2 linked regions of the Homo sapiens genome follow. The protein of the gene in region 1 purifies or fractionates together with the protein of each later gene. This does not show direct contact. Each region holds a gene or a part of one and is shown in the gene's direction. Other genes may lie near its edges.

Region 1 (4,578 bases):
GGTCACTATAGTCTGAAGAGTGAATAGGAAGTTAAAAATATGTAAGTATCTAATGCTGGCTACTTTTTTTGAAAAGTCATGACCAAGAAGAGAAAGAAAACAATAGGATAATAGTTAGAAGGAACAACAACATCAAAGGGATTTTATTTGTTTTTGCTTTTTAGATGAGGCATGGGAGGGGCTTCAACATAATTATATACCAACAGGAAAAAACGTGGAAGACAGGGAGAGGCTGAAAATACAGGTGTATATTATTCAAGGTCCAATCATATAACACTTGATGACGCTTATATTCTTGAAACTCCCTCCTTAGTTTCCTTGATGCTACTTGGTCTTAATCCTTTTCCTACTTTCATGACCATTACTTAAGATCTTTTCTATACAGAAGTCACACCGGATATTTGACCATGGAAAACTGAATACAAATAATTGTTATAAAGCTGTTTATCAGGCAATTTAAATGGTGAGAAGAGAACATAAGATATATAAAAGTAGCAATTATAAGAAGCATCTATCATTCTTAGGACTGGGAGACCAACAGGGGCCGGTAGGAGACGGAATTTGCAAAGTCTAAGAGGAGAGGGAGAGACTTTTTGCTAAAGGCAATCAAAAAATATTTTATGAAGATGGCATTTGAGCTGGGCTTAATTAAGTGGAAATGAGAGAATATTTCAGGTATTGCACATGACCTGGGAAATAGAAGCTACTTTATAAATATTTGTTGAAAAATGAAGTGATGAACAGATAAGCAAGAAAATCTAGAGAAAAGTGTGGAAAATTTCGGGAACAGTAAGTTTGGCTGGAGCTTGGATGGTGGAGATCGGTTGAAAATGTGGTTGCACAGATGGAGTAGAGATGGAGCAGACGGTCTTAAATTCCAGGCCAATGTGTTGAAAATTTATCTTAGGAAGCCGCTGACATTTGAGTAGGGAAGTGACAAGACTGGAACGATGATTTCTGGATGGCCGATTTGCCTGTGATACGTAGAAAGAACTGTAAGCAGAGAGCAACTGAATTTCTCAGCCAGAAGGCCAAAAAATGACGAGCTGGATTGAAGTGACAATAAGGATATGAGAAAGGGAACAAGCAGGAAACAAAATGTAAGCCGCCAAGAAGTGGCTGAAGTGATGACTGTGGTTGGGGGGCATGGGAGGAAGAAGGGAAATTGAAGCTCCTTCTGAGTCTAGGCAATTGGAAGAATGGCAGGAAGAGGAAAGAAAGAGGAAGAGAACGGGGCTTTGAAGGGCCATGAGAAGTTCTGTGGAAACGGATTGGACATCCTAGTGCAAAGAGATGTGGCAGTGCAGGTCTGCAGCTTAACGGAGCCTGGGCAGGAGGTGGCTGATGTGGGTTTCATCTGCATAGAGATTCCGGCTGACGCCTCTATTTGGAAGAATGCAATAGTATTTGCGTATTTGAACCCACAGCCAGTCCTTGGGCCAGAAACTGAGGCTGAACTGCCTCTTGATTTACAGCTTCCACCCCCAGTTTCCATTCTCCCCTAAAGCACTGGATTCAGGTAATCGCGGACGCACTTGGCTCCTCCCGCACTGGCCGCTGCCCTCGGCGGGACAATGGGCGCCCTAGCAGCCCCGAGCGTTCCCAGGGCGCAGGCGCGGCGCGGCGTGGCGTCGCCTAGCAACGAGGCACAACAAGGGACTGGGGGTTCGTCTGCTGGGTTTGCGGAGCAGCTAGCTACTCGGCGGGATCTCCCGGCAGGTAAAGGTAACCCCGTGGGGTGGGGAGGCCCAAGGCAGAGGCCTGAGGAAAACCTGGGAAAGGAGAAGGTGCCACGTGGGCGCAGACTGCTTGGGTCAGTGAGGCAACACCTTGCTGGGCGTTGTTAGTTTCTGCCTCGCGCCCGCAGGGTTAGACGGGGCTTGGGGTGGGTTTCGTAAGCATCCCGCCACCTCCCATTCAACAGGTGACAAAACTGAGGCCCGAGAGGGGATCTGAGGTGAGATCAAGTCAGATTCCGTTACTTGACTGTGAGCAACTCAGAAGTGGCCTCGATTTCTTGAGCCCTCCTCCTCTTTAAATCTTCTCAAAGCAGAACTCATTAGAAAATATTTAAAATCATAGGCTGAACGTTCACGAAGAACAAATACAAAGGACCAATCAACTCGTGAAAAAAAAAATGGCTCCAGTAGTCAAGAAGATGCATTTTTAGAGCAGAGTTGTTTGCATATCCAATGCCCTGAAGTTTTCACCCAGTTAATTTACTGCTAGAGATTTATCCTAAAGAAATAGTTGGGGATAATGGATGAAAATTTTATGTCCAAGGACGTTCTTTCAGCCCTGTCCATATTTCCAGAAAATTAGAAACAAATTTCAACAATCAGAGACTGGCTAGATAGCTAAGGGATTTTAAAATATTTGTAATGGCATGTTATGCTAATCCACTGGAGATTATTAAAGCAATGAAGGGAAACTGAGACTTCATGAATTTATTTGTTAATATAAGAATTTAGTAGGAATATGAACCCAGGAAGGGAAGGTGAAAGTAGGGGATAGAAGTTGAGGCAGGATGTTAAAATCACTTTAGAAAAACACACAAAGCCAGGTACGGTGGCTCACGCCTACAACCCCAGCACTTTGGGAGGCTGAGGCGGGTGGATCGCCTGAAGTCAGGAGTTCGAGACCAACCTGGTCAATGTGGGGAAACCTGTCTCTACTGAAAATACAAAAATTAGCCGAGCGTGGTGGCGGGTACCTGTAATCCCAGCTACTCAGGAGGCTGAGGCAGGAGAATCTCTTAAACCTGGGAGGTGGAGGTTGCAATGAGCCAAGATCAGGCCACTCTCCAGCCTGGGCAACAGAGTGAGACTCTGTCTCAAAAAAGAAAAAGAAAAAGAAAAAAAGAGAAGAGAGAGAGAGAGGGAGAGAGAGAGAGAGAAAGAGAGAGAGAAAGAGAAAGAAAAAGAAAAAGAAAGGAAAGGAAAGGAAAGGAAAGGAAAAGAAAAGAAATAGTATTGATCTCTCTGAGCTTATCTTTGGGTGATTTTTATTTTATTCGTTGTGCCCTTGTTTTCCAAATTCTCCACAGTGAAATGTATTACCCTTGTAAGGATCATCTCCATAGCTCATTGCCACCGACCTATGTCAGCTGTTCAGTCTCTCCTCCATTAACTATCATACCCAATATGGTGATAAAACACATAGGCTTTTTTTGGGGGAGGAGACAGAGTCTCGCTCTGTCACCCAGGCTGGAGTGCAATGGGGTGATCTCAGCTTATTGCAACCTCCGCCTCCCGGCCTCAAGCAATTCTCCTGCCTCAGCCTCCCCAGTAGCTGGGAATGCAGGCACATGCCACCGCCACTCCAGGCTAATTTTTGTATTTTTAGTAGAGACAGAGTTTTGCCATGTTGTCCAGGCTGGTCTTGAGCTCCTGACCTCAGGTGATCCACCCGCCTCAGCCTCCCAAAGTGCTGGGATTACAGGAGTGAGCCACCACGCCGGGCCATGATAAAACACATAGGCTTTTAACTTCATTCTTTAGCTTAGGAGACACTCTATCATTGCAATACTGTCTGTGTAAGCTCTTCTAACCTCTGCACTATGCAATTGCTCAAAAACACTATCCTGAAGTAGGAAAAATTAGTTCCTAAGTGAAAATCAGATGATTTAAAACAACTTTATGCAGGTGTAATTAAATTGCTTCCTGAATATTATTCATAAGCAATTATTTTATAAATCAAAGGCTGCTCTGTCTTGGAATTGGTTATAGAGTGCTATAAACTCTCTCTTTTTTTTTTCCTAGAGATTAATTGTAGGATAGATTCTCATTTGCCCAGAATAGTTTCTGCCTCTCTGCCTGAAATATTATAGGCACAAGGTCTAGGGCCTGTTCACTTTTCAAGCACCTAAGGAAGATGTTTGAGATTTGAAAAAAATGCTTATATTGGCTCTAAAATATGAAAAGAGAACTGAAAAATTAGTGTTAATTAAATGTTTTATTAATATAAATTTTTATTACATTTGAAAACAATTTTCTCATTTTACAAGAATTTCCAGGTGTATGTACTGATTGCTGAGTAATTTCAAATACAAATTTCAAAAGTTTTTATGATGCAAATGACATTTAATGGGCGATGCAGGCACATTTTAACATTTTAATATATTGGCTATTGTGTGAATAAGCTTGCCCAGGCCCTCCAAAGTCTTAAAAGTAGTGTGGTCTGAAGTTAGAGACCTAGAATAAATGCCTTTCAGAAGTATCTAGGAGTTTCTATGAAGACGTGGCTTTTTAATGTATGTGATAAATTCTGGTCAGTGTCTCTAATGCTAGGAGTTGCTTTTGACCCTTGACATGCAATTTGAGCTAACCCTGACACTGTAGATTCTCCCCAAGGATTTTCTACTTCCTAGGATTTCTACTGAGACTATGGTAATTTCCTTAAGGCTATGATATACCGTTTAAGATTGCTCCTACGATATACCGTTTAAGATGGCCCTGATGTCAAACATAATTCCACAAACTCTCACTGAAGAAAACTAGATAGATTTCCTGGGTTATTCTAATAGACATTAACATCTTGAAAAGTTTCTTTTTTTTTTTTGAGACAGTCTCACTCTGT
Region 2 (3,814 bases), 7.8 Mb from region 1:
AGGGCCTCAAGCCTAAGGAAGGCACCAGGAAGGCCCTGAGCTGAGGCCTGCCCCGGTCATCATGGCCAGAGCACTGGGAGCAGGGGGCAGGGAGGGTGTGGAGAGGGGCCGAGGCAGGCAGCAGCCATGGGGAAGAGCCTGGGTTTTAGTCCTACCATGTTGGGAAGCTCTGCAGAGAAGGACTTGGAAAACTCTTCTTGGTGGAAATCACTAGAAATTGTGATGGCCTGAACTACGCTGCTAGCAGTTTAGATGGGGAGAAGTAACCAGCCTTGAAATTATTTTTAGGTTTTGCTGGGAGGGGCAGAGGTCACCGCAGCCCTTTCCTCTCCCAGTTTGTGGAAATGCAGTAAAAAGAACACACCTCCCAAGGCTGTTGAATGAAACCTACATTGCTTATGACAGTGTGTAAGATAAGGCTGCATTGTAGGCCTTGAGACTCGGAATCACTGTTGTTTTGTAATGTCATCTTTGTCACTGGATGACAAAGGATTTCTCCTTTCATTTAATTGGCAAAATAGGCCAGCTGTGGTGGCTCACACCTACAATCCCAGCACTTTGGGAGGCTGAGGTGGGAGGATCACTTGAACCCAGGAGTTTGAGATCAGCTTGGGCAACATAATGAGACTCCGTCTCTACAAAAAAAATTTACAATTAGCCGGGCACTGTGTTGTACAACTCTAGTCCCAGCTACCTGGGAGGCTGAGGAGAGAGGATCGCTTGAGCCCAGGAGTTGAAGGCTTCAGTGAGCCATGATTGCACCACTGCACTCCAGCCTTGGCGACAGAGTGAGACCCCGTCTCAAAAGAAAAAAGAAAAGAAAAATAATTGGTGAAACAGCAATGATTTCACACCACTGCCTAGCTTTCCTGTTTCAGTCCAGAGGCGCTTGATATAACAGCATCTTTTTAAAGATTATCTGAAACCCGAGGGCCCTAAGTCAGATTTTGCTTATGTCACTGACCACTTTGGATGGTTAGAATACTTTGTCATTTAATATTCTCGCTTTTTGCCTTTCTTTTTTCTCTTTCTCTCCCTGTTCAGATGAAGTCATAACATCTCATGGTGCAATTGAACCAGATAAAGACAACGTACGCCAAGAACCGTATTCTTTGCCACAGGGTTTTATGTGGGACACTTTAGACTTGAGTGATGCCGAAGTGGTGAGTGAGTAAAAACCTCTTAAATTCAACTCCTGCATTCACACATTGCTTCTAAGTTGATTCTGAGCACCATGGATAGGACACTTGTTTTATCTTATAGCTCAAGGAGTTATACACGTTGTTAAATGAGAATTACGTAGAAGATGATGACAATATGTTCCGATTTGACTATTCACCCGAGTTCCTGTTGTGGTAAGTCTCATCGATCACAGATGTCGTGGATAGGCGCTGCTGACTTGGGGACTCCTGCGTCTGTTCCTGTGTTCTTGGACAATAACTGGTGCCTGTTTTCTTGTCTACCGTGACCTCAGGGCTCTGCGTCCACCAGGCTGGCTCCTGCAGTGGCACTGTGGGGTCAGAGTGTCTTCAAATAAAAAACTGGTCGGGTTCATAAGTGCCATCCCAGCAAACATTCGGATTTATGACAGGTACATGTTTAAGCTCGTCCATGCGGTTTTTATATGTTTATTTTCTAAGAATTACAATTAGATTAGGCCTTTAAAAGTTACTGAATGCAGGCCAAGCGCAGTGGCTCACACCTCTAATCCCAGCACTTTGGGAGGCTGAGGCAGATAGATCACCTGAGCTCAGGAGTTTAAGACCAGCCTGGTCAACATGGGTGAAACCCCATCTCTACTAAAAATACAAAATTAGTTGGGCGTGGTGGTAGGCACCTGTAATCCCACCTACTCAGGAGGCTGAGGCAGGAGAATTGCTTGAACCCAGGAGGCGGAGGTTGCAGTGAGCCGAGATTGCGCCACTGCACTCCATCCTGGGCAACATGAGCGAAACTCCATCTCAAAAAAAATAAAAATAAAAATAAAAATGACTGAATGCAAGCTGTCCGGTGATCAGGGAGGTTGTGTATGTGTGGAGGCAGAGGCTTTATGGAAACTCTCTGATTGGTTTTGCTGTGAACCTAAAACTGTTTTAAAATATAAATTTATTAAGTAGTAAAGAAAAAAAAACGGACTGTGAATAAAAATAAAGGACAATGGTTTCTTTTTCTCTTTTTCTCTCTCTGCCTCTCAATCTCATACATGCTCACACATATATGTATCAGAAAAAACGAAGCCTTGGCCAGGCACAGTGGCTCACACCTGTAATTCCAGGACTTTGGTCGGGGCCGAGGCTGGCAGATCACTTGAGGTCAGGAGTTCGAGACCAGCCTGGCCAACATGGCGAAACCCCATCTCTACTAAAAATACAAAAATTAGCCAGCATAGTGGCACGTGCCTGTAATCCTAGCTATTTGGGAGGCTGAGGCACGAGAATCACTTGAACCCAGGAGGAAGAGATTGCAGTGAGCCAAGATTATACCACTGCACTCCAGCATGGGTGACAGAGCAAGACTTCATCTCAAAAAAAAAAAATTACTTAAAAATTTTTTAGGAGAGATAAAGCTTTCTCTCCATAGGATACATTGCACTTTTAGTTTGGATCTCCAGCCCGGAAAGTCAAAGATCCAGCTATGAAAGTCAAAGATGTCATATATAATTGGTCTCTTTACTTGTCAGTGTATTAGGTTAGCTTATTTACTGTGAAAAGCATTTGATCTCAAGGAATATTTTGTGCCAAATGAAGTGTGTACCTGGAAACAGAACCAGGAACAGGATTTGAAGATCTAGGAGGTTTACTGTAGTTCAGAGCGCACCAGCTCTGGTCTGCTCAAAGCCCCTCTCAGGGGTCCCAGGGGTTTGTATCACACTCCAAAGCAACATCTTATCAGATTCTGCACCAGGATGACTCAGTTATTACCATAATTTAGGAAAAACAGATCTAGAAACTTAAAGACGGGCAGGTCGTAGTGATTCATGCTTGTAATCCTAGCACTGGGAGGCTGAGATGGGAGGATTGCTTGAGGCCAGGAGGTCGAGACCAGCCTGGTCAACATAGCGAGACCTCATCTCAAAAAAGGAAAAAAAAAAAAAAGGAAAGAAACGTAAAGAGCCATAGCTGATCCATTTTCTAAACTGAAAACGTATAATGGACCAAAGTCCCAAAATGTATTTAGAACAAGAGGGTTGGAGCCTCCGTGCGTTTTACAATCATTTTGGCAGGGAGATATGGGGAATAGTGTTTCCGTCTGAATTTGTGAAATGTCTAAGTGATAGAATATTTTTGTTAAATATTGTGTTAAAGAATGGCTTTCAGGCCAGGTGCGGTGGGTGGTTCACGCCTATAATCCCAGCACTTTGGGAGATCGAGGCAGGTAGATCATGAGGTCAGGAATGCGAGACCAGCGTAGCCAACATGGTGAAACCCTGTCTTTACTAAAAATACAAAAATGAGCTGGGCATGGTGGCGTGCACCTGTAATTCCAGCTACTTAGGAGGCTGACGCAGGAGAATCGTTTGAACCCAGGAGTAAGAGGTTACAGTGAGCCAAGATTGCGCCATTGCACTCCAGCCTGGGTGACAGTGCGACAATCTGTCTCAAAAAAAAAAAAAAAAAAAAAGAAAGAAAGAAGAAAATAGAATGGCCTTTATGTTCTTTTTTTTCTTTTTCTTTCTTTTCTTTTTTTTTTTTTTTTTTTTTTTTGAGACAGGGCCTTGCTCTGTTGTCCAGGCTGGAGGGCAGTGATGCAATCATGGCTCACTGCACCCTCTGCCTCTCAGGCTCAAGTGATCCTTCCACCTCAGCCTCCCAAG

What was found.
Region 2: the proteins of ARMC3 (region 1) and NMT2 purify together in Homo sapiens (affinity purification with mass spectrometry; one large-scale study listed by BioGRID and IntAct). This does not show direct contact.

What each region holds. Positions count from the first base shown.
Region 1 is NC_000010.11:22,926,388-22,930,965, forward strand, and holds the start of ARMC3 (armadillo repeat-containing protein 3), read left to right. Parts: upstream 1-1,665; 5' UTR 1,666-1,719; intron 1,720-4,578. UniProt on the Homo sapiens protein: Essential for male fertility and sperm motility. During spermatogenesis, promotes the autophagic degradation of excessive ribosomes, providing energy resources for mitochondria and thus ensuring sperm flagellar motility.
Region 2 is NC_000010.11:15,130,594-15,134,407, reverse strand, and holds part of NMT2 (glycylpeptide N-tetradecanoyltransferase 2), read left to right. Parts: intron 1-1,044; coding exon 1,045-1,163; intron 1,164-1,263; coding exon 1,264-1,355; intron 1,356-1,474; coding exon 1,475-1,591; intron 1,592-3,814.